Linked DNA regions of Homo sapiens: regions 1, 2 and 3 are each linked to region 4. The links come from fine-mapping of genetic effects on gene expression. A gene starts in region 4. Each other region holds a variant in brackets. All regions are shown on one strand. Distances are between the middles of the regions.

Region 1 (8,099 bases), 140 kb after region 4:
CCCTCTGCAGTCCCTGCCCTTGGCTTGACCTCTAAGTGGTAGGAAATAGCTACAGTGCCCCCTGTAAACAGCCCAAGTCGGGGAGCAGGTCTCTGATCTCAACATCCCCCCTCTTCTGCAGCAGAAGCTGACTCCAGCGGCCTGGCTTTTGCCTCCAACTCTCTGCAGCGGCGCAAGAAAGGGCTCTTGCTGCGGCCAGTGGCACCCCTGCGCACCCGGCCACCCTTGCTAATCAGCCTGCCCCAAGATTTCCGCCAGGTTTCCTCAGTCATAGACGTGGACCTACTGCCTGAGACCCACCGACGGGTGCGGCTGCACAAGCATGGTTCAGACCGCCCCCTGGGCTTCTACATCCGAGATGGCATGAGCGTGCGTGTGGCTCCCCAGGGCCTGGAGCGGGTTCCAGGAATCTTCATCTCCCGCCTGGTACGTGGGGGTCTGGCTGAGAGTACAGGGCTGCTGGCGGTCAGTGATGAGATCCTCGAGGTCAATGGCATTGAAGTAGCCGGGAAGACCTTGGACCAAGTGACGGACATGATGGTTGCCAACAGCCATAACCTCATTGTCACTGTCAAGCCCGCCAACCAGCGCAATAACGTGGTGCGAGGGGCATCTGGGCGTTTGACAGGTCCTCCCTCTGCAGGGCCTGGGCCTGCTGAGCCTGATAGTGACGATGACAGCAGTGACCTGGTCATTGAGAACCGCCAGCCTCCCAGTTCCAATGGGCTGTCTCAGGGGCCCCCGTGCTGGGACCTGCACCCTGGCTGCCGACATCCTGGTACCCGCAGCTCTCTGCCCTCCCTGGATGACCAGGAGCAGGCCAGTTCTGGCTGGGGGAGTCGCATTCGAGGAGATGGTAGTGGCTTCAGCCTCTGACAGTCAGGATGAAGCCCCATGCCACTCCACACTGCTGGGACATGGCAGGGACTTCACAGTGGGGGTTTTTAGCTGGCTCACAGGGCTCCCTCAGCCTGGGGAACATTAAAGGTTTTCTACAAATACAGTCATGGTCCTTGTGTGTCCCAGTTCCAGCCTCCTCCCTGGTCTCACCAGCTTGCCTTCTGCTCTGGACTAAGGCAGGAGTGACATTGGGGAGAACTTCCTGCAATCAAGCAGCAGGAGGGCCACCAGGCTTGGCATTTTTAGGGTAAGAAAAGCTCTTATGGAAACAAATCCTGTGTACAAAATGTTTAATTTTGACAAAGCAGTTAAAAGGCTAGGGTGGCCCTTCTGCAGCCACTGGTGACTGGGAAGAGTGCTCTAGGGACACTGGCCACCCCCCTGCTCCTGTCTTCAGACCTCTGCTCTGGGATTGGGTCCAACCCTGTCCTTTGCAGCCATGTGGCGATCCTCAGCATGGAGCTCCTTGCCACTGTCCCCCAAAGGGGCTCAGTCGTCCATCTTCACGAAGACTTTGGGCCGAGAAAAGATCTTGATGGCCTCCTCTACCTGCACCAGCTTCCGGTCCAGCTCAGCACGGTGGCTCTGGGCTCTCAGTGAGTCTGCCCCAGCAGGCAGCAGTACCAGCTCACGCAGCAGCTGGCTCTGGCCTACAGGGGGCCCGGGAACAGTGAGAACAGTGAGTGTTGGGCAGGGGTGCCCGGTCCCCAGTGGGGCCCCCCTCCAGCCTCCCTGCCCAGGTACTCACTCTGGAGCAGCTTGGTCAGTGTTTCCAGCCGCTGGTTCTCAGGCATGCGCGTGTGGCCTGGGGGCATGGCAGGGTCCGGCTGGCTCTGCTTGCGGGCCTCGGCCTCCCGCCGCCACAGGTCCCTGCGCTCCAACAAGCTGTGGGTACACAGGCTCAGAGTTGATGACCCGAGGGCAGAGGTTGGTTCCCACCCTCCACAGGTGTCCTTCACCCTGAGTGTCGGGCAGTGAGACCTACTAATGTGGCACATGGCCCTTCTGCGTGGCATTGTAGTGCTCCTGGGCCTGCCGCTGCTGCTCTAGCACTTGTGCCAGGACCTGCAGTGAGCAGGAATGCCTCCGGGGGGCTCTCTTGGCAGCTCGTGCATTGTGACGAATGAAGTCCACCCCCAGGCCTGGCTCCTGCAGGACACAGCAAGCGTGGGTGGGGGCAGACAGCATTATGTTGTGTCCCTGAACACCCCCCCCACACCAGGAGCCCTGCCCAACCACCATCTAGCCCCCATACATCCTCTCACCTTAGCTTCGGGACCTGGTGGGGTTGGCTGGGGACTAGATACATGGGGTGGTGGGAGGCCAGGGCCGCAGCGGGAGTGCGCCCGCAGGAAGTGGGCAGACTCTGTCCCAGAGGCAGGGCCAGGCTCCTGGAGGGCAGGGCACAGCAGAGAGAGCAGGCAGGCTGAGGTCTGGGGCTCAAGCTGCAAGACCCTGGCCATCTTGGCCCTTCTGACCTTTGCATCCATGTCCCTCGGGCCCTCTTCCCTCTTCAAGGGACACTTGTCCTCATCAGCACACAAATGTGTGAGTATGTCAGATTTTTAAGAAAACAACAAACCATCTCTCCTTCCACCTCAGTACTGGCCCAGCTACCACTCTCTTTCCTCCTTCCTAGCCAAGCTTCCTGGCTCTAGCCCTGCAAGGCTCCTAACAGCTGGCCTCCAAGTCCTCAAATCCAGGCGGTCAATTCCTTGGTCTCGTTGTCCTCAACCTGATCGTCAATAACTCCTAGGTCTCACTCCTGAGATCCAGGCCTGAATTTCCATCTGCTTCCTGGACACACTCCCACCCCCTGGGAACCCCACAGATGCTTCAGCTACAACACATTTGTGTGACCTTGCCTTTCCTCTCACTCCTGCTCCTCCTACTGAGTCCCTGAGACAGAGCCCCCCACCATACCCCTGCCCTTCCCACTGTCCTCAGAAATAAGGGCTGAAAAGTGGCTTTTGTGGCCCCTGACGTGGGTCCAGCTGACTTCTTGGCCTAACTTCACGCCCTTCTTTCCTCACAGTGAACTGTACCTAGCATCTCCACTGCTGCGTGCCCTGTGGTCTGTGAGGTTCCATCTTTTGGGAATGTTCTCTTCTGCTGTCCCTTTGACTAATTGCTACTTGCCCTCAGGATCAGCCCCACCATCACTACTTCTGAGAAGCCCCCCAGCCTCGCCCTGCAGCAGAGCCAGGGTCTCTTAGTCCTCTGTTACCTCTGTGACTTCCCTCCCACCCCAGAACTCAGATCAGGGTACAGTTGCCTGTTGGCCAACAAAATGGATAATACTTCTGGCTCCCTGAAGCAGGTACCTGGAGCTGGGCCTTGACCCGGGACTCCACCTTGTCGTACTTGGGTGAGCGCCACAGAGCTTTCAGGGGCCTGGGCTGGCCCTGCTCCCGGCTGCGCTCCTGTTCTCTGAAGCGCTTCTGAATCTCCCTGATCCGCCTCAGGTTCTCCTTCTCATGGTCCTTAGGGTCCTTCCCTGGAGAAAAGATGCCCCCAGGTTCTGCCCTACATGGGGCCCACACAGTCCAACTTCCACTAGTTCACACACAGGCCTGCCCCCTGCCTCCTACAGAAAGAGCTCCCTGACCTCTCCAACTACCTTAGACCCTACACACACTCTCCCTCATCACCGTGTTCCCTTCCTCATGTAGTAAGTATCACAGGATGATTTTCTCCATTATTATTATTATTATTATTATTTGAGACAGGGTCTCACTCTGTCACCCAGGCTGGAGTACAGTGGCATGATCATAGCTCACTGTAGCCTCAACCTCCCCGGCTACCTCAGCCTGCCGAGTAGCTGGGATTACAGACACACTCCACCATGCCAGCCTGATTTTTGTATTTTTTGTAGAGATGGGGTTTCACCATGTTGGCCAGGCTGGTCTTCAACTCCTGGACTCAAGTGATCTGCCCGCCTGGGCCTCCCAAAGTGCTGGGATTCCAGGAGTGAGCCACTGCGCCCAGGTGATTTCCTCCATTATTATAGTGAAGTACACCATTGAAGTACACCATAGATCATCTCATATATGACATTCATCTCTTGATCTTTGTATCCCACCTTGACTCAGTGATGGCTCATGCTTATCTTCAGCCCTGTGTTCTAGCATCTATATGGCCTGGCACACAGTAGGCACTCAACAAACAAATTTAATGGGTAACAAATGCATAAAGCAGAGCTAGGGCTTCGTGGGAACTACCTCATTCAGTTCACCTCCTTCGAGAAGGTAGCATATTTCTCCCCCTTTTATAGTTGGGGAAACTGAGACTCAAGAGATGCAAAGCCTGGGCCCACGTCAGGGTGGAAAGAGCAGCTGCTTTTGATCTCTTTCCACCCCGCACTGCCTCTCTG[T/C]CCCTTCTTCCATTCCTGGGACTTACTCTTGAGAGAGGCCCCAGGACCTAGGGAGATCCCCTCGAGTTGCAACAGCACGTCCCCGACGCCGCGCTGGCCGCGCTCCAGGATCTCTCCGGCACCGGGACCGATGCAGGGGCCACGGGGAGCGGTGGTGTCCAGGGCCCGGTCGGAAGTCAGCAAGTCCAGCTTCAGCGCGTTTCCCTCGAGGCGCCCTTGAGCTGTGGGGCGGAGCCGGGCGGAGTCCGGGGCTCAGAGGTGGAGCCAGGGCCGACCCCTGAGCCTCGCACCACCGCCAAGCCCCCGGACTCACCCGAGGTCGGCCGCCTGTAGTTGTCAGGACAGAGCGTCGGGTCTGGGGGGATGGGCCCCGAGATGCGGGACGGGCCCTCGCACATGCCGCCGGCGCCGCCCAGCAACGGTGCCCCGAGGCCTGCAGGGCTGTTTACCTCCCTCCCCGGGCCCCCTTCCCCAACCCCGGGCCCCCTCCCTCGCCCGGCACCCTGACCCTGGCGTGCCCGCCACTCCCGGGCCCCTGCCGGTCCCCGCCTGGGCCCCGGCCTCGCTCGCCACCTCCGCGACCTCTGCTCCCAGCCCACTTCTCGGTCCCGCTCGCGGCCTCTCCCCCGCGGCACTCGGGCAGGGGCTCACTCGAGAGGTTTTGCCGCCAGCCGCTGCCACCCGACGGGACTTGTTGTTGCCGGGCAACCGTGGCTTCCGTCCCCGGGGTCAGGGCCCACTGACCCCGGCGCAAAGCGTCCTGGGGCTTGTAGTTTCGGCCGAGGGTGGGCTCCGCGGTCGCCGGTTTCTCTTCCCAGCTCTGCCCTCGCTTGCTGGCCGGTCTCCGGGGTCAGCGCGGGGCCACCATCCAGCCCCTTGGGGCCCGCCCCAAGCAGCTGTCGAGGACGCACTCAGCCTGCGCAGCCATGGCCTCGGCAGGGGCGGAGAGGCGGCCGGGGGTCCAGGAGGCGACGGTCGTGGGGCAGGGACAGCTCACGGAGGAGCCCGGCAGCGCTCAGACCTCCGAGGTGACCGTCAGGCTGTTTAACCTTCAAACACAGGGCCGCAGCGCTCTGAGAGGTGGAACTGAGCGCCCCGACCCGCTAACTGCCAGGCTGGGCCCTCCAGGCGGGGAGGGGCACAGGCTGGTGTCCTTATTCCCGTTTCGGTGTCTAACGTTAGGTGTTCAGTGACGGATCCCTATGTCCTTTGCCCGGCCATGGTGACCGATGGCCTGTGTGTCATCTCTAGTGTCCAGTGGCGGGAGACCAGTTCCTGGTGCCTGCCCATGAGGCCCGCGGAACCCAGAGTGAAGACCAGCGCCCAGCAGGCGCAGCTTCGGAGTCGGAGCTCCAGGAGGAAGGACCCAAGCTGGGGGAGGAGCGGCCCAAGCCGCATGCCGGGGCGCTAGAGGAGAGAGGCCCCAGGCCCGTGGTCTCCATTGTGAGGCCCCGTCATGGTCCAAAGAGAAAGCCTGTCAAGTGAGGGGGCTCTCGGGGGGAAGGAGCTGCAGCCCCGGGGTTGGGGCACACACCACAGTAGGATTCCTAAATCCTGCACTCCTGCAGGGAGGATTCTCGTCCCCAGCCACTACCATCACTCTCCTCCCGTTCCTCAAGAGCCCCCGTGTAGGGAGCAGCAGGAGAGTGGGAGCTTCAGGGCTTGTAGGGGCCTGGGCTCACTGGCCTCTAAGCCTCTTGGGCCTGGGGTCTCATTGACCAGGAACGGGACAGGCGTCGAGCCCTGGGGCTGTGGGCAGGCTGGGCTATTCCCTGGGCCAGGGAATGGGAGCCAGGGCTGGAGCCTGGCTCAAGTCTCTTGTCCCTGGCTCAGGTCTCTCAGCCTCCCGGGCCTTCGTGCCCATCTTAAGGCTGAAGCTGAGCTGCCACCCAAGCTGCCGCTGCAGGAGGAGGAGCCAGAGGACAGCCAGAGTGAGCCCTCACCATCTGCCAAACAGCACAAAAAAGCCAAGAAGCGCAAGAGCCTGGGGGCTCCCGTGCTCCACGCTGTGGCCAGCATGGTGTCTGCACCCTTAGAGACATTGAGGCTGGAGCGTGAGTGGCAGTCCCTGGACTGTTCCTTCTCCCCCTGCCTGTGGGGCCCGACATGGCACAACCTGGCGCTCTAGCCTCTGCCCTGCCCTGGGTCTTTGCAGGAAAGGCCCAGCGCCTGCGGCCGCTGTACCAGTACGTCAACTATTGCAACCCTGAGCTGAACCAGGCAGGGAAGGGGGACGGGGAGGCTGAGGTGGAGGCAGAGGCAGAGCTGGCCCCGGTTCCCGAGGAGGGAGGTGTGGAGCAACTGCAGGCCTTGCTGCCCTTGGCAGGTGAGCTGGGCCCAGGCCTCGCTTTGCCCTGTCCCAGTCCACTAGTGACCCCCACCCATGCCCTGGCTCCCCTCGGAGAGGAGGCTGGAGAGGAGCCTGGGGGCTTGCCCAGCTTGGGGGTGAGTGACCACAAGGCCGAGGTGGATAAGTCAACCCAGGTGGACATCGACAAGATGCTGAGTGTCTGCACTGCTCCACTTGTCCCCCCGCTCTCTCCTCAGTACAAGTGACTGTCCCGCCCCACTGGTGGCTCCCCTCCTTCCACGCCTGAATTTGGCTTCAGGCTTCCTGTGGGCCTAGGCCCTCTGGTGGCGGGGGCAAATTTGGCACCTGCCCCCACTTGGGACTTTGGTCTTGCTGAAAATAAATATTTTTCTTTTTCAAAGACTTTGTGATTCCCCAGATAGGTTGCCTGAAATGGGTAAGAGGATGGAGGACTCAACAGTGCAGGGTTTGAGGCCTGAATGGTCATCTGCATCACCTGAGACTTTGACAATGACAGATTCCTTTGTGCCACCCCATGCCTCACTGAATCAGGGTGGACCTGGTGCTGTGTGTTTAGGTGAATCTGAGGGTCAGGCAGCTAACTGGGTGATGAAGAGGGAAGTGAGAAGGAGGAACTTGGGGCAGAGAAAAGAAAGGGTCTGTTGGGTCATGGGAAGCAGGTGTTTGGCCCTGCTCTTCTGTCTCCTGGGGAAGGGCCTGCATTTGGTCTCACCTTGAGGGGATCAAAACTTGGGATCCTCCTAGGAGGTAGCACAGAGTTCTTTTGCCTGTCACAACAGTGACAGCTTTGGGATGTTTCCTACTCATTGCCAGACCATAGCTGGACCGGACCTTGTCTGTGGAGTAGCCTCTGGTCACAGGTGACAGGGCATCAGTGATGTTTTCCTGGCAGGCAGGGGTGGACAGGGGCAGTAAGTGCATCTGGGACCCTGAGGCCAAGCCACTGGATGACAGCTGTGTCCAACCGGCAAGGATCTCTGGGAAGAGCCAGCCAGTGTTGGCCATTTTGGAAACTGCACATCCTGGGCCTCCTGTGTGTTCCTTGGACACCACAAACAGACACAGGGAATTTTAAGTTCATGGAAATTTCCCCTTCCTCCAACTGGCTTTTCCTCCTGTATCTCATCTGCACAATTGTTTAAGCTAGAATCTTGGGTGTCACCCCAGACCCCATCCTGTTCTTTGCTCCCTGATTCCTACAAGCTAAGCAGACATTGAGGCCAGTGATCCTACCCTTTCAGGCTGAGAACCTCTCGGACCCCACAGTCAGCACCGTCGCCTGGACCACTGTCATCTCCAGGTGACAGCCTCACTGGTCACCCTGCCTGTCATCCCTTGGCCCACGGATCCATCCAGTGGCCCTGTGACACACACACCTGAGCCCCTGATGGTGTCACTCCCCCTTGGGATTCCCCTCCTCTTGCCCCAGCTACCTTAGAATTCAGTGGCTTCCGGTAATTCCCTGAGCAGTTACACCTTTTCCTCCCTTCACTC
Region 2 (8,099 bases), 100 kb before region 4:
GGAGAAAAAGGCCAATTGTGGTTTTCCAGGTGTGCACACACACATGTGAGCTGACTTACAGGGCTCCTGGGAGCTGCCAGAGGTGACTCCACAGGGACAAAGCTGGATCAGCCCACCCTGGGCCTGAACCAACAGATACGTCCATAATTAGAGCCAGTGTGATCCCAGGGTTCCGGGCACTCTTCACCTGTCCCAGGGCAGGTTAGTGGTTCAATCTTCATGGTGCCAGTTATAAGATGGTGACCTTGGGTAATTTTTTTTTTTGAGGCGGCATCTTGCTTTGTCACCCAGGCTGGAGTGCAGTTGCACAATCTCGGCTCACTGCAACCTCCACCTCCCAGGTTCAAGCAATTCTCCTGCCTCAGCCTCCTGAGTAGCTGAGATTACAGGTGCCCACCACCATGCCTGGCTAATTTTTGTTTTTGTTTGTTTGCTTGTTTGTTTTTGTTTTGCTTTTTTTTTTTTTTTTTTTCCTAGTAGAGACAGGGTTTCACCATGTTGGCCAAGCTGGTCTCCAACTCCTGGCCTCAAGCGACCCGCCCGCCTCAGCCTCCAAAAGTGCTGGGGATTACAGACGTGAGCCACTGCACCCAGCCATAAATTCTTCAACTTTAATAATCTCAATTTGCTTGTATTTGAAATGGGGGTAACAATAGCTACTGCCTAGGGCTGTGATGAGGCCTGAAAATGTGGCCATGCATATAGAGCACCCAAAGAGTGCTCGATGGGTAGTAATCACTGGTGCCTCCCATCCAGACCGTCCTTGTCTTTCTACCAGGAAATGATGCTGTCCGCATCATCAACGAATGGAAGTAAATTTAATTATTAAATTAGACTGGGTGGGAGATGATCAGCCACAGCTCTCGCTCTCTGGGCCCACTTCGTCTGGGTCACAGTACCCTCTCCAATGGGCCCTGGATGACTCAGCCCATCCACTTGGCGTGTCTTCATGGCCACCAGCATCTCTTGCCCTGGCTTTCTGACTGGCTCTTGATTTCCACGGGGGCCCTCCCTGTCCCCGTCCCCACCCCTATCAGTCCATTCTCCTTACAGCCTGTGGCTGTCTTAGAACAAAAACAAAATTTAAAAAATCCACGCCAAGCTGATTCTTTTACTTCCTGCTTACAACCCTCAACAACACTCCCCACTCCTTAGGGAGAGGTATTTCCATATACCATGAAATTGGAATAGAAACCTCCTCCTCACTGTGGCCACCGCAGTCTCCAAGACCTTGCGTGCCCCCTGGCTCAGGCTGACCACAGCTCTGTCTATCCCACGGCCTTTGCATTTGAAGCTCACACTACCTGGAAACTTACTTCCTCTGGGAAAGCCCTCTGTGGTCCCCAGAATAGAGACCATCATTCCCATAGCACCGTGGGACTCTGCTTTCTCGTTCCTTCTCTCTGGGTCTCCTTGATTGTGTAATGATCTGATAAGGGCCTGTCCCTCCAGTCAGACAGAAGAGGAGGGAATTATTATTCCTCCCACAGGGGAGGAATAATGTTTGTATTGTTTACTATTGCTTCCCTAGCACAGAGCCCAGAACATACTAAGCACTCAAGAAATGTGTGTTGAGGCTGCTGTAATCCCAGCACTTACTAAGCCCAGAACATACTAAGCACTCAAGAAATGTGTGTTGAGGCCGCTGTAATCCCAGCACTTTCGGAGGCCAAGGTGGGAGGATTGTTTGAGCCCAGGAGTTCAAGACCAGCCTGGGCAACATAGCAAGACCCTGTGTTTACAAAAAATTTAAAAATTAGCGGTGCATGATGACGCATGCCTGTAGTCCAAGCTACTCAGGAGGCTGAGAAGGGGAGGATCCCTGGAGCCCAGGAGTTCGAGGCTGCAGTGACCTATGAGTGACTGCACCACTGTAGCCTGGGCAACAAAGCAAGACTCTGTCTCTAAAAATAATAATCATAAAGAAAGAAATGTGTGTCAAACACGTGAAGAATAAAAAAGGATAGCGCTACTTATAGGAATTCTTCTGTGAAGCCTTGTGTAAATAACCAAATTATTTTTGTGTAAAAATGGACTTTCCTATATTATCCCACCTCTTCAACATAGTAAATCTATTTTTTCCATGTTCCTTGTTAAGCTTTTTGTAAAATTTGCTGCATTCAAGGCACTTTCCTCCCATTAATTTTCTTCCCTGTTAAGTGGTTTTTACGACCACTTCATGCTTTAAGCAAGAAGTGCCATTTAGTATTTAAAATATTCTCTCAGCTTTCTTGGTGAGATCTTTGGCAACCTTCCTACTGTTGATTGTAACTGGTGCGACTTGGAACACGATGTCACTCTTCCAGAACTCTTCTCAGACCTAGATAAAACTTACTCTGTGTCACCAGTTGGGGACAAGGTGTTTGGAAACAGTACCTTATGCAACAGAACTGCTGGAGGGCCGCCCCTCAGAGGCAAATGAAATAAAAATCATGGTGTGTGGAAAATGTGCCCGCAGAGTCCCAGGAACCAAAGATTTTAAAGCTTCTCTGCCAGTAATTCAGTTTTTATTTTATGTTTCTTGGAAAACTGAAGTCTTGTGTTTACCACGTGTCACCTAAGATGCAGAAAGGGGGAAAAAAGTGATCCTGGTTGGTGAAGATTTCCATTTCAATGGCAGCCTGGTCCAAGCTGTTCTCTTGCAACTGACTCCCGCCTCTCCCCCACCAGCCCCCTCCCGCCCCTGCACAGGCTCCCTGGGGAGGGGTATTTCCTTTCAGTGTGAAATCTGTCTTTTTGCTCGCTCATTTCTATGGGGAATGGCACATCCATGCAAAGTTGTTGGCTGCTCTTATTTTATTTCAAAAATGTGCTGGCCTCAGACACCTGAAGTTTTCCTCGAATACTTTAAAGCAAATTATGTGCAGGAACCTCTCAGACCTGCTCTCACCGGAATTTCCTTTGAGTGTTCATATCTCAGAGCCTTATGTAACCTGACACAATTATCTGAAAAAGCTTGGAATCCAAAAGAAAGGTGTTCTGAGCTAGGAATGAAGGTCAGAGCTGGGAAAGAAGTGCTCTCCCTTGCCTGGGGACTGGGTCACACTTCACTACGACAATGCCCAATTCACGTTCCAAAGAAAAAATACTAAACCTCTGGCAGGGTGACCAGTGGGTACACTCGCCTCATTTCTCTGAACAAGGAATCGCTTAATGAGGGCTCCCGGGGCATTACAAAGCCTTGGACCTGGCTGGCGGTTAAAAATATTTCGATAACCACCTCCAGCTTCTGGCCTTCCCAGGATGGAAGCAGGAGTGGCTTGGGCCCCTTTAGGAGAATAACCCCTCCGCTGACTGCAAAAATCAACCCAGCTGGACAGTTGGGGTCTCGTGCCGGAGGTCAGTGCTGCAAATGGGGTATAGGTGGGGGTCTGGAATTCACATTTTTATACCAAGTGGTTGGTCTAGGTGATTTGACTCAAGCCTGGCCCAAGACTCCCCCGCCCCAGCCCACTCCCAACACAAGGCGGAAGGAGAGCGAGGACATTAACTGTAAGTACAGACCTAAAACTGGGGGCAACCAGGAGATGACCCCGCATTCTGGAAAGCCCTCAGGCCAAGAAGCTCTTTTTCTTCTTGAGAAATATCAACCCTGCTCGATATTTGCATACCAGCGGTGAGGGACCTCCACGGAGCAGAGGCACCACTCATAGGTGGTTGACTTTTCAAGGAATTCGCTGGAGAAAATTGTACGCAAGGCTGTGAACAAAACCCCCCTCCATCTGGTTTCAGTTTATTTAAAAAAACAACACACACAGTCCTCCCCACCAGCAATCAGAAGACAGCCACAGCTTCCCCAGGGGGCGTATTAGCCACCAGGGGTGGGGCTGAATTATGTATATGCAAATAAATTAAAACAGCCAGCCAACAGCAACTAATTTTTGTATCTTTTGCAGTTGTTGTGCCAAGAAAAGGCCTGAATC[A/G]GGGTGATGGAAGCTGTAAGGAGACAAGTTTGGAATGAGTTTTAACAATCAAGTTGCCTCAATTCCGTCGTTGGGAGACTTGTTTTTAATCGAGCAGCAAATAGCAAAAGGTCGGTAGCCTTATCCTTATGTATAGGATAAGGATAATGATAGTACCTACTTCATAGTGATGACGTGAGGATAGTAAATAAAATAAAGACCAAGCAAGCTAAGCACAAGGACTGGCATGCCACAAACACACAACCACACTGGAGGATACAAGACGGATCCTAGAAGGATTTCATCCAGAGTCAGTCAAGCTCTCCCTCCAAATGCTCTCAGCTGAGGCTTGCTTTCCGCCTGGGACTGGTCCAGAAAGCCCTGCAGAACATACTCTCTCTGTTTCCCAAACTCAAGGACCCTAATCCCCAAACATCTGCCTTTAATCCTGGAGACAGTAAAAGTTCGGAGGAGGGTGCCAGACACAGGCTGAAAACACAAGTGATGCTCCTGGCTTTCTGTGTCTTACTGCCTCCCTCTCTGGTAACTGGAGGGGAGGTTTCCTTCAGTTCCGTAACTGAAGGGCCTGGTTTCCAGGTGCCCAGCCCAGATGGGATAGCTCTGAAAAATGGTGGAGGCAGGGGCGAGTTCAGTTCATGCCTAGGGTAATCAGAGGGGAGTCGGCAACCTCCAGGGCTCCCACGCTACAGGAGCAACATGCTGGAGCCCACAGGCTTCCACCTGCCTTGGGGCTCAGCCTTTGCATGTTCAGGGGTGCCTCAAGCTCAGTTTGTTTGAACAGACCTCTGCTCCGTCCCTCATCTGGATGCAGGAACAAGACTCCCAGCCTCAAGAATCACTTGAAGCCAGCAGTTCAAGACCAGCCTGGGCAACATAGTGAGACCCCTGTCTCTACAAAAAATTTAAAAAACAATAGCCAGGTGTGGTGGTGAGTGCCTGTAGTCCCAGCTACTACGGAGGCCTGAGATGGCAGGATCGCCTGAGCCCAGGAGTTCAAGGCTGCAGTGAGCCGTGATTGTGCCACTGTACTCCAGCCTGGGTGACAGAGCAAGACTCCATCTCTAACTAAAAGTAATAATAATAATAATAAAGTAATAATCATAATAAAATTTAAGAGTGATAATAATAATTTAGTCAGCCTCCACTCTTCCCCAGATCCATTTCCTGTCCACCTGGGATGGGGGTCTCATTTGCTCAAAACCATTCCAAGCTCTCCTTTGCCCTCAGGATGAAGTCTAAGATGCCACAGGTGACCAACACAGCCCCGTATTAACACAGTTCTCAAGAGCCCAGACTTTGGGTTCAGGTACACCTGAGTTTGAATCTTGGGGCTGGTCCAAGACTCCAACGCAAGTGGAACTTGAGAGCTTGAGCAATTCCCTTCACCTCTGGAAGCCTCAGTTCCCTTGAATGTAAAATGGTGATAATGACAACTACTACAAAGGCTATGATGAGGTATCTGCACCCAACCCAGGGCTTGGGACACAGCAAGAGATTTGGAGGCCAGTGCATGGCATGAAGATTGAGGATGTGGTGGGGCACGATGGCTGCCAGGACCAGCTTTAGACATGCTGAGGCTGAGGGGCCTATGTGTGTCCAAGGGAAGTGTCCAGGGGCAGCTGGACATGTGGGCCTGTGGTCAAAAGGGAGAGCTTGGCCAGAAAGCAAGCAGGGAGGTCGCCAGCATGTGAGTAGAAAGATGAGCTCATGGTGTGGGGAGGGCCGAGGGTGAGGCCTCTACAGCCAGAGCTTCACCCACAAGGAAGAGAAGCTGGAGAAGGAGGCTGAGAAGGAGAGGCAGTGAGGTCGGAGGAAACCCGGCAGCCGTGGCTTCGCAGGCACCCAAGGGAGACAGGGCTTGGGGCAGGAAAGAGAGGTCAGCAGGGCCGAGGCTTTGAAGAGGCCAAATTAGCTGAAGCCAGAGATGAGTCTATGGGATTTGGGGACTAGGGGGTTACGATTGGGAGCTGGTCCCAGGCAAAGGCTGGGAGGGGAGAGTGGTGATGGTGATTATGGACAACTTTAGAGAAATGCAGCTGAAAACAGTAGGAGAAAACACAAGAGAGATGCTTTTTTTTTTTTTTTTTTTTTTTTTTTGAAACAGAGTCTTGCTCTGTCACGCAGGCTGGGGTGCGGTGAGTAGTACAATCTCGGCTCACTGCAATCTCCGCCTCCCACATTCAAGAGATTCTCCTGCCTCAGTCTCATGAGTAGCTGGGACTACAGGCATGCATCACCATACCTGGCTAATTTTTGGATTTTTAGTAGAGGCAGGGTTTCGCCATGTTGGCCAGGCTGGTCTCGAACTCCTGACCTTAGGTGATCCGCCTGCCTTGGCCTTCCAAAGTGCTGGGATTACAGGCGTGAGCCACCACGCCCAGCCACAAGAGAGATGCTTGTGGAAAGGGATACGGGCTTGAGGTTCCCAATGGGTGAGGCTAGCGCCAGTACACTTGCTGCTGGGGCCAGTAGTCAGTTGCTATATCTGTGGTGCCCAGCACAGGGCCTGGCATGCAGTAGGAACTCAATACAAGTTTGTTGTCTTTGAGGACAGGGAGCAATGGGGTCTAGGACCCTGGCCACTGGCAGGAAGAGGGACCCTCTGCCATTCTGCCAAGAGGAGGCATGGTGGGGGTGAAGGCGTGAAGCAGAGTGCAGGGCAGGGGCTCCTTGGGAATCTGCAGCCTCTTAGCTGCAGAGGGAAGAGGAGGTGACAAGTCAGTGCTGAGTGCTCTGCTCCAGGAACCCAAGTACAGTCAGAGGACAGAGCGAGAGGGCTCCTGGAGTCTGCCACTTGGTACCCCCTACTGTAGACATCTGTTCCCCTCTCCTCAACCCAGCAGCCGGTGGGTTACCTGGTCTTTAGCTCCTTCAGAGCCGTGCTCTCCCTACACGGCCAGCAGAGGGTACCAGTGAGCTGCTGGACTCCGCTGGAGGAGACCAGAGCCCGCCTGCCCACCCCTTTGTCCTCCAGAGCCTGGGGCGTGCTAAGGGTTTGGTTAACCAGGTTTCTGACCAAGGCGGGTTGGAGGCTGGGACAAAGGACTAAGGGAGGCTGTGGGCTGAGGGCTTAGGGGCCGAGTGGCTCAGGTGCTCTGCTCCTGGTCACCCTTCATTCCTCTGCCCTGCCAGGCCCTGCTTTATCTGTTGAGGCTCCTGCCCACTGCCCCTCTCCGCTTCTCTTCCCTGGAGGCCCCTGACAGCCTAGACTCCTGCTTCTAGCAGAGGCTGGTTTTCTGCCCCTAGGCAGGCACGACTTGGCAACAGGCCTCAGACAGGGCTGGGCCAGCTTCTGCCAGCAATGACTGCCCTAACCACCTTGTACTTCTAGAACGTCTCCACCTAATAAGGGATAAGGGGTCAGTGGTTGAGGAGGCCACAGGAGCTGGAGCATAGGTCCTGGGAAGGAGGAGGCTTGGACTAGGAAGTGGGATGAATGGGCAGGGGGAGTTTATATAAAAATGTGGCAGATGGTCCAGTCCCACCAAGACCCAAATCCCATAAGACTAATGGCTCTGCCTGAGGTGGCACGAGGTTCCAGAAGCTGAGCTGGAAACACCCCCTTCCTCATCCTAACCATGTTATACTCTTCAGCCAAACGCAAATCCCAACATCGCCTCCTGGCAAGTCTGTCCCCATGGTGGCCTTCACGGTTCCTTCCCAGGACAGTGTAGGACCCTGCTTCTGCCTCTTTCCTTATCTTGCCTTCCTGCCCCATCCCCCTACTCTTCAACTCCTGCTTTAGCAAGTGCTGGTTCTATCTGTGTTGCCTTGACCTTGAAGGCTCCCCAGGACCCTCATCTCAGCTTCTACTCCCTTCCTCACTCCAAGGGGAAGACTCCAATGGACTGAGGCTGGAGAAACCACAGCCAGACTCTTGGTGTGGTGGCTAAAGCTGGGGGGTCTGGCCAATCCAATCTCTACAGCTCAAATCAGGAAGTCAGGCCAGGGGTGCTGTGTCTGCCTCCAAGCCTGGGCCATACATTCACCGCAACAGGAATCAGTGACTTTGGAAAAGGAATGTTTCCCTGAGTTTCTAGAGGCAGGATGACCCAGACCGAAGGACAGAGAGTTACCAGAAACACACACAATGCACACAAATGTACTCACTTGCACACACAGGGTCATGGCATAGGGAGTGACACAACCAAATGGCCTGGACAAGCCACAGAGTCC
Region 3 (8,099 bases), 76 kb after region 4:
CAGGATGGTCTCGATCTCCTGACCTCGGGGATGCTCTGAGATTCTGAGCAGTGTATTGAGAGGCTGATGGCTTGCTACTTTGTGTCTGATTTTTCTCTATTAAAAATAGAAGCTATTGCTTTAAGACCGAGTAGATGCTGTTGTTTTGTGGACTTTATGCCATGTGTTTTTTTTCAGTGAGACAGTACTCTGTCAGCTCAACTTCTTGGAAGCACAGTTGGTTTCTATTTGTACTCTTTTGTACCACTTCTTTTTCTACCTGGTTTATAATTCTGTGACCTCTTTTAGGTTGGACTCGGTTGTTTACAAGCAATTTTTTTTTTTTTTTTTGAGATGGAGTCTCCCTCTGTCACCCAGGCTGGAGTGCAGTGGCCCAATCTTGGCTCACTGCAGCCTCCGCCTCCAGGGTTCACGCGATTCTCCTGCCTCAGCCTCCCAAATAGCTGGGACTATAGGCACCTGCCACCACAACTGGCTAATTTTCGTATTTTTAGTAGAGATGGGGTTTCACCATGTAGGTCAGGCTGGTCGTGAACTCCTGACCTCAGGTGATCCGCCTGCCTCGGCCTCCCAAAGTGCTGGGATTACAGGCGTGAGCCACTCAGCCCAGCCTGTTTACAAGCAATTTTTAACATTTTAAGTTTTCAAATTCACACCAGAGACCAGATAGAATTTTTTTCCGTTGTCTTCAAGTTGTAGCATCAAATTATATGCTACAAAATCCTGGAGACCCCAAAGATTGTTTTTCCTCTACCAATTTTATTATTGAGGATATTTAAATAGTCTGGGATTATGTAGTGACTCTGGCAGGGTCACCACATTTACATTCACAGCATCTCAATTTTTTGTTCTTTGATACCTTTTCTGAGAATGTCACTCTGAAGTAAATTGGGCTTTTTGTATGTTCCCTAGCTCCAGACATCTGGATTATCATTCCCTTTGCAGGGATACTAACTTTTGGGGCTTTTCAGGGACTGAAAAACTTCTCTTAAAAAGTTTTTTTCTGGGGGCTGGGCACGGTGGTTCATGTCTTTAATCCCAGCACTTTGGGAGGCCGAGGCCGGCAGATTACCTGAGGTCAGGAGTTCAAGACCAGCCTGACCAACATGGAGAAACCCTGTCTCTCCTAAAAATATAAAATTAGCCAGGTGTGGTGGCGCATGCCTGTAATCCCAGCTACTCGGGAGGCTGAGGCAGGAGAATCGCTTGAACCCAGGAGTCGGAGGTTGTGTTCAGCCGAGATTGCGCCATTGCACTCCAGCCTAGGCAACAAGAGTGAAACTCCATCTCCAAAAAAAAAAAAAAAAAAAGAGAAGAAAATCTTAATGGGGAAACAGTAATAGTATAAAGTTAAATTGCAAAATCTAATTCTGTGGGTCAAGGGTGGGACCTGAAGTTCTGTGTTTTTAAGAAGCCAGTGCTGCTGGTCCTCAGACCATACTTTGAATAACAAGTACAAAGTTGTGCTGTCCGGTACGGAAGCCCCTAGCCTCATGTTGCTGTTGAGAATTTAGAGTTTCACTGGTTCAAATTAAGGTATGCTGTAAATGTAAGATATAGCTGGGCACGACGGCACATACCTGTAATCACAGCACTTTGGTAGTCTAAGATGGGACAATAACTTGAGGCTGGGAGTTCAAGACCAGCCTGGGCAACACACCTCTACAAAAAAAAAATTACAAAAAAAGAAAACATTAGGCCGGGCGCAGTGGCTCACACCTGTAATCCCAGCACTTTGGGAGGCTGAGGTGGGGGATCACGAGGTCAGGAGATCGAGACCATCCTGCCTAACATGGTGAAACCCCGTCCCTACTAAAAATACAAAAACAAAATTAGCTGGGAGTGCTGGTGGGTGCCTGTAGTCCCAGCTACTCAGGAGGCTGAGGTGGGAGAATGGCATGAACCCGGGAGGCGGAGCTTGCAGTGAGCCGAGATCAAGTCCCTGCACTCCAGCCTGGGCGACAGAGGGAGACTCCCTCTCAAAAAAAAAAGGCTGGGTGTGGTGGCTCACACCTGTAATCCTGGTACTTTGGGAGGCCAAGGCGGGCGGATCAGGAGGTCAGGAGATAAGAGACCATCCTGGCTAACACGGTGAAACCCCGTCTCTACTAAAAGTACAAAAAATTAGCCGGGCGTGGTGACAGGAGCCTGTAGTCCCAGCTACTTGGGAGGCTGAGGCAGGAGAATGGCGTTAACCCAGTAGGTGGAGCTTGCAGTGAGCTGAGATCGCGCCACTGCACTTCAGCCTGGGCAACAGTGCAAGACTCTGTCTCAAAAAAAAAAAAAAAAATTAGAGGCCAGGCACGGTGGTTTATGCCTGTAATCCTAGCAATTTGGGAGGCTGAGGCGGGCAGATGACTTGAGCCCAGGAGTTCGAGACCAGTCTGTGCAACATGGTGAAACCCCACTTTTACTAAAAATACAAAAAAATTAGCCTGGTGCCTGGTATGAACCTGTAGTCCCAGCTACTCGGGAGGCTGAGGTGGGAGAATCACCTGAGCCCAGGAAGTCAAGGCTGCAATGAGCCATGACCATTCTGCTGCACTCCAGCCTGGGCAACAGAGGAAACCCCGTCTCAAAAAAAAAAAAAAAAAGAAAAGAAAAGAAAATTAATTGAGCATGGTGGCATAAACTGTAGTCCTAGCTACTTGGCAGACTGAGGCAGGAGGATCACTGGAGCCCAGGAGTTGGAGGTTACAGTGAGCTGTGATCCTACCACTGCACTCCAGTCTGGGCAACAGAGCAAGTCTGTGTCTCAAGCATAACAATTTTTTTTGTTAGTTTTGTTTTTGTTTTGTTTGTTTGTTTTTGAGACAGAGTCTCGCTCTGTTGCCAGGCTGGAGTGCAGTGGCGCGATCTTGGCTCATTGCAAGCTCCACCTCCCAGGTTCACACCATTCTCCTGCCTCAGCCTCCCAAGTAGCTGGGACTATAGGCATCCGCCACCACGCCCGGCTAATTTTTGTATTTTTAGTAGAGACAGGATTTCGCCATGTTAGCCAGGATGGTCTGTATCTCCTGACCTCATGATCCACCTGCCTTGGCCTCCCAAAGTGTTGGGATTACAGACATGAGCCACCATACCCGGCCAACAATTTTTTAAATTGATGAAACCTTGAAATGATATTTTGGACATACCAGGTTAAGTAAAATAGATTACTAAAATTAATTTCACCAGGGTTTTTTTTTTTTTTGTTTTTTGTTTTTTTTTTTTACTTTTTAATATGAATTTTTTTTACTTAAAATTACATATAATGTGGCTTATGTTTGTGGCTTGCATTATATTTCTATTGAACAGTGCCAGCCTAGAGAATTTATATTCTAAAGATAATCTGTCTGAACAGTACTGAGTATATAAAATTAATTATAGTTAGGATTATGCTTAGTCTTTTACAATCAGAGGTATAAATGGGATTTTTTTTTTTTTTTTTTTTTTTTTTTTGAGACAGTCTCGCTCTGTCTCCCAGGCTGGAGTGCAGTGGCGCAATCTCGGCTCATGGCAAGCTTCGCCTTCCGGGTTCACGCCATTCTCCTGCCTCAGCCTCCCGAGTAGCTGGGACTACAGGCACCCGCCACCACTCCTGGCTAATTTTTTGTATTTTTTAGTAGAGATGGTGTTTCACCGTGTTAGCCAGGATGGTCTCGGTCTCCTGACCTCATGATCCACCCGCCTTCGCCTCCCAAAGTGCTGGGATTACAGGCGTGAGCCACCACGCTTGGCCTAAATGACATCTTATAATAAAAATACTAGCACTTTGCTCATTTTTAATTTATAGGTGAATTATAAAGCATTCTACAAATGTTCTTTGATCCCCACCTTCTGCGGTAACATTTTTTTATATTTGTCCCCACTGTCATGGAACAGCATAGTAAGAAGCCTTTGCATTGGATGTTGTTGTATTTTTCTCTTGGTTGTTGAGAACAAGGGACTAATGAAAGAAAGAAGGTAATGGAAGAATAAACCAAACTGGCAATCCAACAACCTCGGGAGTTTACCTTGAGCCTTGTTTTTTTCCAGGCAGATGGTGGGGTTTGCTGAATCTGTCCAAAAGTATATGTTGCTTCAAGCCCGGCTTTTGCCCTTAAAGAGCTTTCACACCCAACTGGGAAAATAGATCGTTTTGAGAAAATTTTAAGTGCTAAACTGTGTCCTTATTTTATCAGAAACACATTTGGAGCAAAGTAGTGGCCACAAGAACCTCAGAAAGCTTTGTTGTGCCAGGGATGAGCTGGTGTTGAGAGGAGTGGATCAGACGTAAAGTACAGAGTGAAGACAGGGAGATGACAGTAGGAACTGTGTCTGGATGAAAAGACAGCTTGACTGAAGGGGAGAGTGCTAGAGGGCAAGACATAAATCTGAATAGGTTATCATGGGGTCAGGTACGAAGGGGCTTTGTGAGCCAGAAGGGTGGTAAGTGCATCATGTAGTTTTTGCAAAAGTAGAGACACACTTTTTGAGGAAATTAAGTCTTCTTCTTTGTGAAATGAGTGAATCTTTACTTCTCTGCCCAGAAAGCATAAGTGGTTTTCCATTGCCAGTCATCTGAGGTATTTTGTTATTCAAGACCATCCAAACTATGGGGGGCAACCAGCACATCTTTCACCTGTCTTACTACCCTCTCCTCTGTCCTGTGCTTTAAGCCAGTTCTTTTTCTTACTCATAACTAATTCCCACATGTATTTATTGTACCCAGAAATCCAAACCTTTCCCCTACAGAATACATCCTCTGCCCTCCACTGTCAAACTCTGCCTTTAAATGTCCTGCTCACGTTTCAGGGTTCC[G/A]TTCAAATTCCACATTTATGAAGCATTTTTCTATCACACCTGGTTATGTTATCTTTCTCCAAACCTATGTAATTTCACCTTGAACCATTGTGCTACCTATTTTGTCCTTTATGTTAGACAGTAACTCCTAGAATGTAGGACCAGGCCTCCCAAAATGCTGGGATTACAGGCGTGAGCCACCACGCCCGGCCCCTATTTTGCTCTTGTTTAGGTAATGTCATTCTCTCTGTAGTAGTTCTTGTGCTGCCTCTCAGGTGGTCCTGGCTTAAGGAGTCTTCTCTGACTGCTATCATGGATATAATACAATGTTAAGGTGCCTAGACAGAGAATTGGAGAAAAGTGTGTCTAATAGAACTAACAAAAGCTTCGTTTGAGCTGTATTCTTGGCCAAAAATACAAAACACTTCAATGTTTTGTTTTGGGTTTTTTTTTTTTTTTTTTTTGAGACATAGTTTCACTCTTATCGCCCAGGCTCCAGGCTGGAGTGCAGTGGCACTCGGCTCACTGCAATCTCCGCCTCCAGGCTTCAAGCAATTCTCGAGCCTCACTCAGCCTTCCAAGTAGCTGGGATTAGAGGCACACCCCACCACACTCAGCTATATATGTTTTATTTTATTTTAATTATTATTATTTTTTTGAGACAGAGGCTCGCTCTGTTGCCCTGGCTGGAGGGAGTACAGTGGCCCAATCTCAGCTCACTGCAACCTCCACCTCCCAGGTTCAAGCAATTCTTCTGCCTCGGCCTCCTGAGTAGCTGGGATTACAGGCATGTGCCACCACACCTGGCTAATTTTTGTATTTTTAATAGAAACGGGGTTTTGCCGTGTTGGCCAGGCTTGTCTCCATCTCCTGACTTCAAGTGATCTGCCCGCCTCGGCCTCCCAAAATGCTGGGATTACAGGCCTGAGCCACCACGCCTGGCCCCTATTTTACTCTTGTTTAGGTAATGTCATTCACAAGATTTTTGTTTGTTTTTTATTTTTTGTTTTTGAGACCGAGTCTCACTCTGTCGCCCAGGCTGGAATGCAGGGGCACTTTCTCAGCTCGCTGCAACCTCCACCTCCAGGGTTCAAGTTCTTTTCGTGCCTCAGCCTCCCAAGTAGCTGGGATTACAGGTGCACACCACTACGCCTGGCTAATTTTTGTATTTTTAGTAGAGATGGGGTTTTGCCATGTTAGCCAGGCTGGTCTTGAACTCCTGGCCTCAACTGATCCACCAGCCTTGGCCTCCCAAAGTGCTGGGATTACAGGCGTGAGCTACCGTGCCCGGCCCATTCACAAGATATAAGAGCCAAAAACTATGAATTGGCTGATTTGTTTTCTGCTTTCTATTATATATTCAATTTGGTTGGCATTTATTGAGTACTTACCATCCTGGGCACAGTGCTAAAGAGTAAAAACCGTGGCTGGGCGTGGTGGCTCACGCCTGTAGTCCCAGCACTTTGGGAGGCCGAGGCGGACAGATCACGAGGTCAGAAGTTCAAGACCAGCCTGGCCAACATAGTGAAACCCCGTATCTGCTAAAAATACAGAAAATTAGCCAGGTGTGGTGGTGGGCACCTGTAATCCCAACTACTCCGGAGGCTGAAGCAGGAGAATCACTTAAACCTGGGAGGCAGAGGTTGCAGTGAGCCAAGATCACGCCATTGCACTCCAGCCTGGGCGACAGTGCGAGACTCCGACTCAAAAAAAAAAAAAAAGTAAAAACCGGTTGGGCGCAGTGGCTCACACCTGTAATCCCAGCACTTTGGGAGGCCGAGGCAGGCGGATCACGAGGTCAGGAAATCGAGACCATCCTGGCTAACATGGTGAAACCCCGTCTCTACTAAAAATACAAAAAATTAGCCGGGCATGGTGGTGGGCGCCTGTAGTCCCAGCTACTCGGGAGGCTGAGGCAGGAGAATGGCGTGAACCTGGGAGGCGGAGCTTGCAGTGAGCGGAGATCGTGCCACTGCACCCTAGCCTGGGCAACAGAGCGAGACTCCGTCTCAAAAAAAAAATTAAAAAAAAAAAAACGACTTGTTAGATGTGGTTCTTATTCTCAGGGAATTCCTGATCTCATTGTCAGGAGAGAGGTGAATGTCAAGTTGATGGTATGACATGGGCAGTTTTGTGCAGTGTCTACAAACACGGCCATTGCAGTCTGGATCTAAGTTCTGAGTTTGGCTTCAAAAAACAAGGTCAAAAACCCTTGACAGGGTGGGGAAAATGGGGAATTGCTGTTGAGTGGGTATAAAGTTTCAGTTATGCAAGATGAGTAAGTTCTAGAGATCTGCTACACAACATAGTTCCTGTATTAATCGTATAGCATTATGCACTTTGAATTATGTTGAGGATGGATCTCATGATAAATATTATCACCAAAAACAAAATACAAGGAAATTTTGGAGGTGTATTTAGTGTTTTTTTTTTTCTTTTTTGAGACGGAGTTTCGTTCTTGTTGCCCAGGCTGCACAGTACAATGGCGCAATCTTGGCTCACCGCAACCTCCACCTCCCGGGTCAAACGATTCTCCTGCCTCAGCCTCCCAAGTAGCCAGGATTACATACAGGCATGCACCATCACACCTGGCTAATTTTGTATTTTTACTTAGGACGGGGTTTCTCCATGTTGTTCAGGGTGGTCTCGTACTCCCGACCTCAGGTGATCCACACACCTCAGCCTCCCAAAGTGCTGGGATTATAGGCGTGAGCCACCACGTGCTTAATAAAGCTACCTTAATAAAGCTTTTTACAAAACATTGGCAGACCCGGGCACAGTGGCTCAGTCACATGTATAATCCCAGCACTTTGGGAGGCTTAGGTGGGAGGATTGCTTCAGCCCAGGAGTTCAAGGCCAGTCTGGAAATGTGGCAAGACCCCATAATTGCAGAAAATTAAGCTAATTCATATATGCATCATCTCACATCCTTGTCATTTTTTGTGATGAGAACACTTAAAAATCTGCTCTCAGTTATTTTCAGGTATACGTTATTATTAACTGTAATATTCATGTTGTATAATAGATCTCTTGAACTTATTCCCACTGAAATTATATGTCCTTTACCAGTGTCTTCCCCACTACATGTGTAAGATTTAAATTAGTTTTGTTAGTAATTCTTTAATATCATCAGATATCCAGAGTTGAAATTTCTAATTGTCTTGTGTCACATCTTTTTCACCATTTATTGGTTTGAATCAGGATCCAAAGAAGATTCATGCATTGTGATTGATTACTGTCTCTTTAAGACTCTTTTATCTGTATCAGAGTTTCTCAGCCTCAGTGCTCTTGACATCTTGGGCCTGATAATTCTTTTTTTTTTTTTTTTTGAGATGGAA
Region 4 (8,099 bases):
TGAGGGAAGCCGCGGTTTTTCTGGGGTTTCGGACTTGAACTGCATTACTTCTGAAATGGAACTAGCAGTGCCGTGTGTGAGGACTGGGGGTTCATTGCGGCTCTCACCACCCTCTGCTGTCTGTCCCAGGGATTTTTCTCAGGCCTGAGTCCACCCCTCTGAGAATGTGATCTCCCAGTGGTTAGAAGTGCTCATAATTCCTTTCTACACACACCACAGCTACCAGCTGAGTCCCAGGCAGAGGACAGGGCTCAGGAAATGATGCCTGATTCAAACAGGGCCGAGCTGACCACGACCCAGGGAGCCAAGTTGGAGCTCAGAGTCTGCCCTTCCCAACGATGTGACAGTTTCTATGGGAAGTTCTTGCCTTCCCTGAGCTTCAGGTGTCTCCTCTTTGAAGTGGGTTTCAAGCTGTGTCCTCCCCTGTGCTTAGCTCACCAATTGTTAGGGAGAGGCTTTGAAAGCCACCAGGACCCTGTGACCCTCGGAGGGATGCTGCCCTTCCCTCGAGGCCCCTTGGATGTGGGGGAAGAGCCAGGTGAACTCCCAGGTGTTCCATTTAATCACTGCAGCGCCATCTGTGCCTGGTCTGGTGGTCACAGGCCTGGCCATGGACAAGGACAATAGGCAGTAATGGGTGCTCAGAGGACACAGGTTCCCTGGAGGAAGGGACATCTGAGCTGTTTTCCAAGTGGATGAGGGGGAGAAGCATCCTAGGCAGAAGGGAGGCTGGGAAAAAAGGCAGAGGCCAGAGGGTGGAGGCTGCATCCAGGGAGCTGCAGGCTGGGAGTGTAGTGGAAGCCAGATCACAGGGGCCGCAGAATAAGTGCAAGATAAGGAGGTGAGGTCATCTGAGGCCAGATCTCCTGGGCCTTGGAGGCCCTACCACATAGTATGGACTATCTTCTGGAGTGGGTGGGCATGGTAGGGGGAGGGAATTAATTCAAAAGATGTTAAGGAGAAAGAAGCAAGAGGACTGGGCAGCTAAAGGAAGGTGAGGGCAGGAGAGGGGGATGCCAAGGGCTCATGCATTTACACGTTCAGTTACTTGCTCATTCAACAAATATTTCTTGAACTCCCACTATGAGCCAGGCACCTTGATGATAAGGACTTCTGTGGTTCCTACCCGCACACTACTTAGAGACAACACAGTCAGGCAGGGTCAGGCCCATGAGCACACATGGTGTGCACACTGCTGCCTGGCCATGGTGAGCAGTATGAAAGGAGTCAATAGGAGGCTGGAACAGAGGGTGTCTGCAGAGAAAGTACTCAGAAGATGCCTGGCTGAGAGGTGACTTTAGGGGTGGGCAGAGGCCAATTGGTGCCAGCTTTGAGAACTCCAGAAAACCCCAGTCTCTAGCTCAGGTGGATGCCTGGGTAGACAGTGGTGCTTTGTAGGGATGGGGACAATGCTGAGGACTGGTGAGTCAACCAGAAAGCAGCCAGGGGCTCTGAAACAGGAGAGGGCTCTGGGCACAGAGGGAAGTTTGGGATGGTCAGCAGTGAATGGATGGGAGCCCTGAGACTGGATGATATTTTAGGGTAGGGTGAATAAAGAGAAGAACTCAGCCCCTGGAAGTCATGCCCAGGTTTAAGGACTTCAGAGAAAAGGGCACTGACCGGCCCAGTGGCTCATGCCTGTAATCCCAGCACTTTGAGAGGCCAAGGTGGGTGGATCGCTTGAGGCCAGGAGGTGGAGGCCAGCCTGGCCAACATGGTGAAACCCCATCTCTACCAAAAATATAAAAATTAGCCGGGACATCTCTACCAAAAATATAGAAATTAGAAGGCGGAGGTTGCAGTGAGCCGAGATCACGCCACTATACTCCAGCCTGGGCAACAGAGGGAGACTCCGTCCCCCAAAAAAAAACAAAAAAGAAAGAAAGAAAAGGGCACTACAAAGGAAGCCCAAGAGGAGGGGCTGGAGAGTGGAGAACTGTGAGGCAGAGGTGGCTCAAGCCTGTAATCCCAGTACTTTGGGAGGCCAAGGTGGGAGGATCGCTTGAGCCCAGTTAGAGACCAGTCTGAGCAACATGAAGAAAGCCCATCTCTAAAAAACCGACCAAACAGGCTGGGCGCGGTGGCTCATGCCTGTAATCCCAGCACTTTGGGAGGCCAAGGCGGGCAGATCACGAGGTCAGGAGATCGAGACCATCCTGGCTAACATGGTGAAACCCCATCTCTACCAAAAATACAAAAAATTAGCCGGGCGTGGTGTGGGCGCCTGTAGTCCCAGCTACTCGGGAGGCTGAGGCAGGAGAATGGCATGAACCTGGGAGGTGGAGCTTGCACTGCATTCCAGCCTGGGCGACAGTGACACTCTGTCTCAAAAAAAAAAAAAAAAAACCCGACCAAACAAAACCAAGCAAACAAGCAAAACACACAAAAAAACAGCCCTCAGGACTGGTGGGGGCGGGGTACAGATATTCAGGGACCTCTTACTGTCCCTGAAACCATTCCTGGGTAGGTCTGACATACATGAGGGCTGCGGGAGTGCAAGGCCTGGAGAAGCCTCAGGGGTGTCCAGGTTGGAAGGGCCAGGGGTGTCTGATTGATGGGAGGAGCGGGGGAGTGGAACTGGCCCTTTGACCCCAACATGGGGTCGACTCTCAGCCCCACCTTTACCGACTGTGTGGAGGGCCAGCATTCTAGCCCCGGCTTTGGAAAGGACTGGGTTGCCCAACACATGGCCCTGTACCCGGACCCTGCCAGCGTCCCCACCCCAAGACTGCCCGAAAACCAGTACCCAATGAGTGGGGAATGCATGACCCGGCTATGAGCCTGGACTTACCAGCCAGACAGTGGCAGAAAGGGCGGCCTGCCTCTACAGCGACGCTGAGGCTGGCTGAAATGGCAGGGCTGAAGGGCAGCGTCTGGACCCAGAAGGTGCCAGGCGGCTTCTGGACTCCCCAAGGCCTTCACAACAGCCCTGGATCCTTTCCACCAACCAGCCTAAGCCAGCAGTAGCAGCTCCAGGACCTGTTTCAGGTGGTCACGGACAGGGGGCCCGCAAGGTCTCCAGAGCCCGAGGGATCTGGGGAGGGGACAAGCAGGCGGGGCTCCCTGGCGCTCACCGTTTTAGGGTCTGCGTGAGAAAGCCTCCCTCACATCCCCCAGGGTCTGCCCTCCCTGCAAGCTGGTGGGCTGCGTGGGCCACCGGCCTGCCCCGTTATCCGAGAGGGCGGAGCGAGCCGTGGGCGCCTCTAGGGGTGCGGGAGCCGCGGGAGCGCAGGGGGTGGGGCCCGGCGGGCCAGGGGAGGGGCGGCGGGGCGGCGGGCGGAGGGAGGGGCCGGCGCCTGCGGCGGCGACAGCGGCAGCTGCGGCGCGACCAGGCCGGGCACCTCCGAGCGCAAGGACAGCGCGAGGTCCGCGCAGCCCAGCGCAGCCATGTGAGTGTCCCGCGCCGTTTCCGGGGCTGCAGGCCGGGCGGGGAGCAGGCGCGGAGGTTCTGGTGCCCCCCCGCCGGCGCCGCCCGGTGGGTCCGGGATCTGCGGCTCTGTCCCGCCTCACCCCATCTCCCGGACCCCGGCCGCGCCTTGTCTTTCCTCCCCTCCCCCCGGGCGTGGAGAACGCAGCTTCTCCCACAAAAGCCGCCGCCTCCGGGCCTGCAGAGCCTGGCGCTGCTGCCTTCCTCCCACGGCAAGGCCCTGGCGGCCGGTGCCCCGGGGCGCTGGGATGGGCCAGGCCAGAGAGCGGGCTCAAGGCGCCAGCCTGGGCCCTGGCACGCGCGCTCCCTGGGAGCCCTTGCTGCCTTCGCCGCAGGGGAGGCTGGGCTGGAAATGGGGAGGGGGCGACGAAGGGTGCGGGCCGGCCTAGGAGCTGAGCTAATCCTCCTAGCTCTAGGGGCCGGCCTAAGCGGCTTTGTGGCCGGCCCCGAGGTGACCGAGCCTGGGCTGGAGCCGGGCTCTCCGCCCAAACCTGGCGTAGCCGAAGCCGGAGAGGATCGTCCTTGTCGGGGAACGGAGCTTTTCCCTGGAAATGGAGGTTGGCGCAAGGTTCCTGCAACAGCCGGGCCTGGGCTCTCTGCAGAACTGGTTTGGGCAAGGGGCTGCTCACCAGGGCTAGAGGTCGGATTCAGTCCAGATTCAGCACCCTTTGTCCTCCTCTCCAGGGTGAGCCCTGAGTCCGGCCTCCCCTACAGACCCTCCCCAGCCAGTTCTAACGTGTGTCCAGGCTGGCCGCCCCAGCACCTACTGTGCGCAGCCTCGTGTAACAATACTTGTGCCCTGGCTGCAGTCTGCGGGGCCGCGCCCTGGGCCTGCCGCATTCGGCCAACGCACAGCATCTGAGGAGGGTTATGACCATCTGGCAGATGCAGAAACAGGCCCAGAGAGGTTAGTAGTATTCTCAAGGTCACACAGCTGGTTTGGGAGAAGCGAGGATTAGATCTGAGTCCTTGCCCCTGCGACACCCACCTCCGTGGTATTGGAGGGAGGAGAGGAATGATAATTGGGGGCTGAGGTACAAAATACTCCAGCGGGACAAGGAGGACTGGCATAGCTCCTTCTTCCACCGCCCTCTCCGGCTTGGGTCCTGTGACTGCGGCGGGAGAGAGGAGCAAGGTGAGCCGCCCCAGGGGTCTGGGTTTGGGTGCGGGTGAGGGGAGGACTCAGGACTCTGGGCTGGGTCCCGCTTGAGAGAAGCGGGCGGGGAGGGCGCGGGTGAGTCACGGCGGCCCCTCTGCGTCGCCGCTCGGACTCAGCCCTGGCCAGGCCCGGCCCGGGGGAGGCCGCCTGGCTCCCAGCGCGCGGCCAGGGAATGTAACCAGCTGACCAGGGAGGGGGCCGGCAGGAAGTGAGGCCACCCGACAGCCTCCGCCCGGTTCCGGGGTGGGGGGTCCGGGGCTGTGCCGCTCCCCCTCCCTCCTATACGCTTGGGCAGCTGCGAGATGACGTCAGCCGCCGGGTTTGGGGGCAGTTGCCATGGAGACAAGGACAGGCTCAGAAGGGACCCCCTTCTCCCTTGCAGCCGCCCCTTGCCCAGGTTATTTTTAGCCTCTGTTTACCTCGGTCGGGGCGGCCCCGGGGTGGGGCGGGGCTAGACCCGGGGACTCCCAGAGAGGCAGCTGGCCTGGCACAGTGCTGAGATGGGCAGCCCAGGTGGTGGGATATTCCGCCGCACCCGGGTGTGCCAGTCTTGGTGTGTAGGAAGTATAGCGGGGCTGCAAGATCTGGGGCCATGCGGACAGGTCAGGGCTCCTCCACTCACGGCCATCCTGACCTGGCTGTGCTGCAAGCCCCATAACCTTTGGAACCTTGGATCTGGGTTATTTCCCATCCTGGGAACAGACTATAGGGCTGACATGAGCCCAGAGAGTCCCCTGGTTCTTATCAGCCAGTCCCCCACCAGTTGAGGTGGCCCTTCTGCCTTAGCTCAAGGGGTTCAGCTCTTTCCCTACCTGCTCTCACCCAGCAAGGGCAATCTTGCCCGCCCATCTCCCGAAGCGGTCACTCAGATGGACATTATGATGGTCATTTGTACCAACAGTTAGACATCCTAGTTCCTATGGGACTCGGGGGATGGTGGCAGCAGAGGGCCAACCAGAGAGAGAAAAGTGATGGAACAGTCAGCGGTTTCCAAGTCCAGAATCCCAGGGGATCCCCACCCTGCACCATCCCAGGGAGCAGAGCCCCACTTGCTGATGGTATACGATACCATCAGCCAGTGGGAAGGGAGAGGGAGGATTGCATGTCGGGTAGGGGAGTTGGGGTGGACATAGACTTAAAATCCTCCCCACCAACAAACAGCTCAGGACCTGCTGTTCCTGTGTCTAGGCAGCCCAGCTTCCCCCACTGTTCCCCCCCTTCATCTCCCAGGTGCTACAGGACCCCCAGAGCGCTGTGGTGAGCCAAGCAGATATGCCCCAGGTCTCACAAGGTTCAGTCTGGTGGGAAGACAGGCCCTAAAGGAGAACTGACAACTGGGTTATGTGGTCTCGGGGTTCAGAGGGAGGAAGTCAAAAAGGGGGAACCAACCCAGGGCCTGCTTCCTGGAGGAAGAAGTCATAGGGTAGACTTGAGGAAGGAGAGGGACTTGGGGCTGAGTAGTGGGAAGAAGGAATAGGAGCGATGGGGGCTGCCGGTCAGATTCTGAAGAACCTTGCAGGTATTGAGAGAGGGTCTCAGTTGCTGGAACAGAGAAAGCAGGGGACTGGGAGGAGAGGAGTGGTTGAAAGAATGTGAGGGACAGGACAAATCCTGAAGGGCCTACGTGGGTCATGTTAGAGAGTCTGGGCTTTCTCCCTGGGACAAGAGTGGCTGTGGCTATTTCACATCAGTCTGAATAGAGTGATATTAAAGATTTAGAGTCCTGGGGTCAGACAGCCTGGGTTTGAATCATGGTCTTGACACTTACCACCTGTGTGACTGTTTTGTTTTGTTTTTTGAGACAGAGTCTCGCTCTGTCGCCCAGGCTGGAGTGTAGTGGTGAGATCTTGGCTCACTGCAAGCTCCACCTCCCGGGCTCATGCCATTCTCCCACCTCAGCCTACTGAGTAGCTGGGACTACAGGCGCCAGCCACCACGCCCAGCTAATTTTTTTTTTTTTTGTATATTTAGTAGATATGGGGTTTCACCGTGTTAGCCAGGATGGTCTTGATCTCCTGACCTCATGATCCGCCCTCCTCAGCCTCCCAAAGTGCTGGGATTACAGGCGTGAGCCACCGCACCCGGCCGTGTGACTGTTAAAAATAATAGCAGTTAGTATTTGTTGTGTGTTCACAGTTAGATGTTAGCTAGGCATGGTGGTGCATGCCTGTGGTTCCAGCTACTTAAGAGGCTAAGGCAGTAAGATTGCTTGAGCCCAGGAGTTCAAGGCTGCAGTGAGCTATGAACGCACCACTGCACTGAAACTGATCGCTTGAGCCCAGGAGTTCAAGGCTGCAGTGAGCTATGAACACACCACTGCACTGAGACCTGGGTGACAGCGTGAGACCTCGTCTTAAAAAAAAAAAAATTAGGTATAGTGAGTCCACCTCAACGTCCCTACCCCACATACAATTCTCCCTTCCCCAAACACTTCCTATAGAGGGACATCCTCATGAGAGGAGATCTCATTTCATCCTCCCAGCAGCCTTGGGAAATAGCTGTTGTTATTATTATTATTGTCCTCTTTTTACAGATGGGTGTCTGAAGCCCAAAAGGCTGAATAAGTGTCTTGCCCAAGGTCACACAGCCTCAGGTTTCTCAGGTGCGAAGTGGAGCTAATAGGACTTACCCCATAAGGCTGTTGCCAGGATTAAATGAGATGATGTTTGCTAAGCTCAATGCCTGGCATATAGAATGCTCTCAATAAAGGACAGTTTTTGGCACTGTCAAGTGGCTACAATTTTAAGGTCAGTGTTGTTACTGAATAATGAATGGATGATTGCAGGTTAGAGTGGAGACAGGAGGTCCCTCAGGAAGGTTCTAGCTCATCAGAAGCCCAGCTGTAGGGCTCGAGGGGAGAGTTGGTGATGGCTTGGACCTGAATTCTGGCTATAGGGGTAGAGGTGAGGGGGCAGATTGCAGAGAGATTTAAGAGCCAGACCTGGCAGGAGGGGGTGACCTGGCAGGAGGGGGTGACTGGTCATAGGGGCTAACTGAGACATCCAGGACGACTTCTAGTTTCTGTCTTGAACAACGGGGTACATAGATGGTGGAGTGTCATGGAGAAGTTGAGACTAGGGAGAGTCAGGTGGAAAGTGGTGAATTTGGTTTGGGAACCTCAAACCCAGCATGCACTATGACAGCGCACGCTGCATCTGGGGAGGCAGCAAGCAGGCAGTTGGATACAGAGGCCTGGTGCTCAGAAGAGTGGCTTGGGTGGAGGAGAGATAAGGAAGCTGGCAACATTTAGATGGCATTGAGCTGCGGGATCTGTGCACAGCCCAAGGGCGGGGAGGATAAGGCCCATTCGGGGATGGGAGGAAAGAAGGGGCCTCTGTGGGAAAGTAAGATATGCAGCCAGAGAGGTAGATAGAAAACCAGCGTATTGTCTCTTGAAATTCAGGGGAAGGAAGGGCTTAAAGAAGAGGAGGGGAACCACGAAGTCCAAAGCTTTGCTGAGATCAAGCAGGATAAGGATAAAACATGGGCACTGGGTTCAGCAACAGGGAGGTC

What was found.
Region 1: its variant is fine-mapped to the expression of RIPOR1 in whole blood (TOPMed, PIP above 0.99).
Region 2: its variant is fine-mapped to the expression of RIPOR1 in whole blood (TOPMed, PIP above 0.99).
Region 3: its variant is fine-mapped to the expression of RIPOR1 in whole blood (TOPMed, PIP above 0.99).

Annotation. Positions count from the first base shown.
Region 1 is chr16:67,661,772-67,669,870 of GRCh38, forward strand. It overlaps PARD6A (par-6 family cell polarity regulator alpha), which reads left to right. Exons shown (of 3, transcript NM_001037281.2): 3 at 125-1,003. The coding sequence ends at 876. It overlaps ENKD1 (enkurin domain containing 1), which reads right to left and starts at 4,979. Exons shown (of 7, transcript NM_032140.3): 1 at 4,587-4,979; 2 at 4,300-4,494; 3 at 3,225-3,397; 4 at 2,166-2,291; 5 at 1,886-2,049; 6 at 1,649-1,785; 7 at 1,174-1,550. The coding sequence starts at 4,671. The coding sequence ends at 1,390. It overlaps C16orf86 (chromosome 16 open reading frame 86), which reads left to right and starts at 5,043. Exons shown (of 4, transcript NM_001012984.3): 1 at 5,043-5,301; 2 at 5,525-5,754; 3 at 6,107-6,327; 4 at 6,429-6,984. The coding sequence starts at 5,200. The coding sequence ends at 6,829. RefSeq lists silencers at 4,551-4,820, 5,161-5,210, 5,231-5,280, 5,361-5,410. The variant T/C (reference allele first, on the strand shown) is at 4,274.
Region 2 is chr16:67,421,483-67,429,581 of GRCh38, forward strand. LOC124903702 (a long non-coding RNA gene) reads left to right here. Exons shown (of 2, transcript XR_007065093.1): 2 at 3,897-5,049. Among named protein-coding and RNA genes, the nearest start is that of HSD11B2, 5.6 kb to the right of the region's middle. RefSeq lists enhancers at 1-23, 2,743-3,337, 6,533-7,067, 7,068-7,602. The variant A/G (reference allele first, on the strand shown) is at 3,924.
Region 3 is chr16:67,601,552-67,609,650 of GRCh38, forward strand. All of the region lies in intron 2 of CTCF (CCCTC-binding factor), which reads left to right. Among named protein-coding and RNA genes, the nearest start is that of CARMIL2, 40 kb to the right of the region's middle. The variant G/A (reference allele first, on the strand shown) is at 4,783.
Region 4 is chr16:67,525,526-67,533,624 of GRCh38, forward strand. It overlaps RIPOR1 (RHO family interacting cell polarization regulator 1), which reads left to right and starts at 3,304. Exons shown (of 22, transcript NM_024519.4): 1 at 3,304-3,389. LOC100505942 (a long non-coding RNA gene) reads right to left here and starts at 3,220. Exons shown (of 2, transcript NR_104656.1): 1 at 2,792-3,220. RefSeq lists silencers at 3,261-3,370, 3,401-3,630, 4,631-4,910.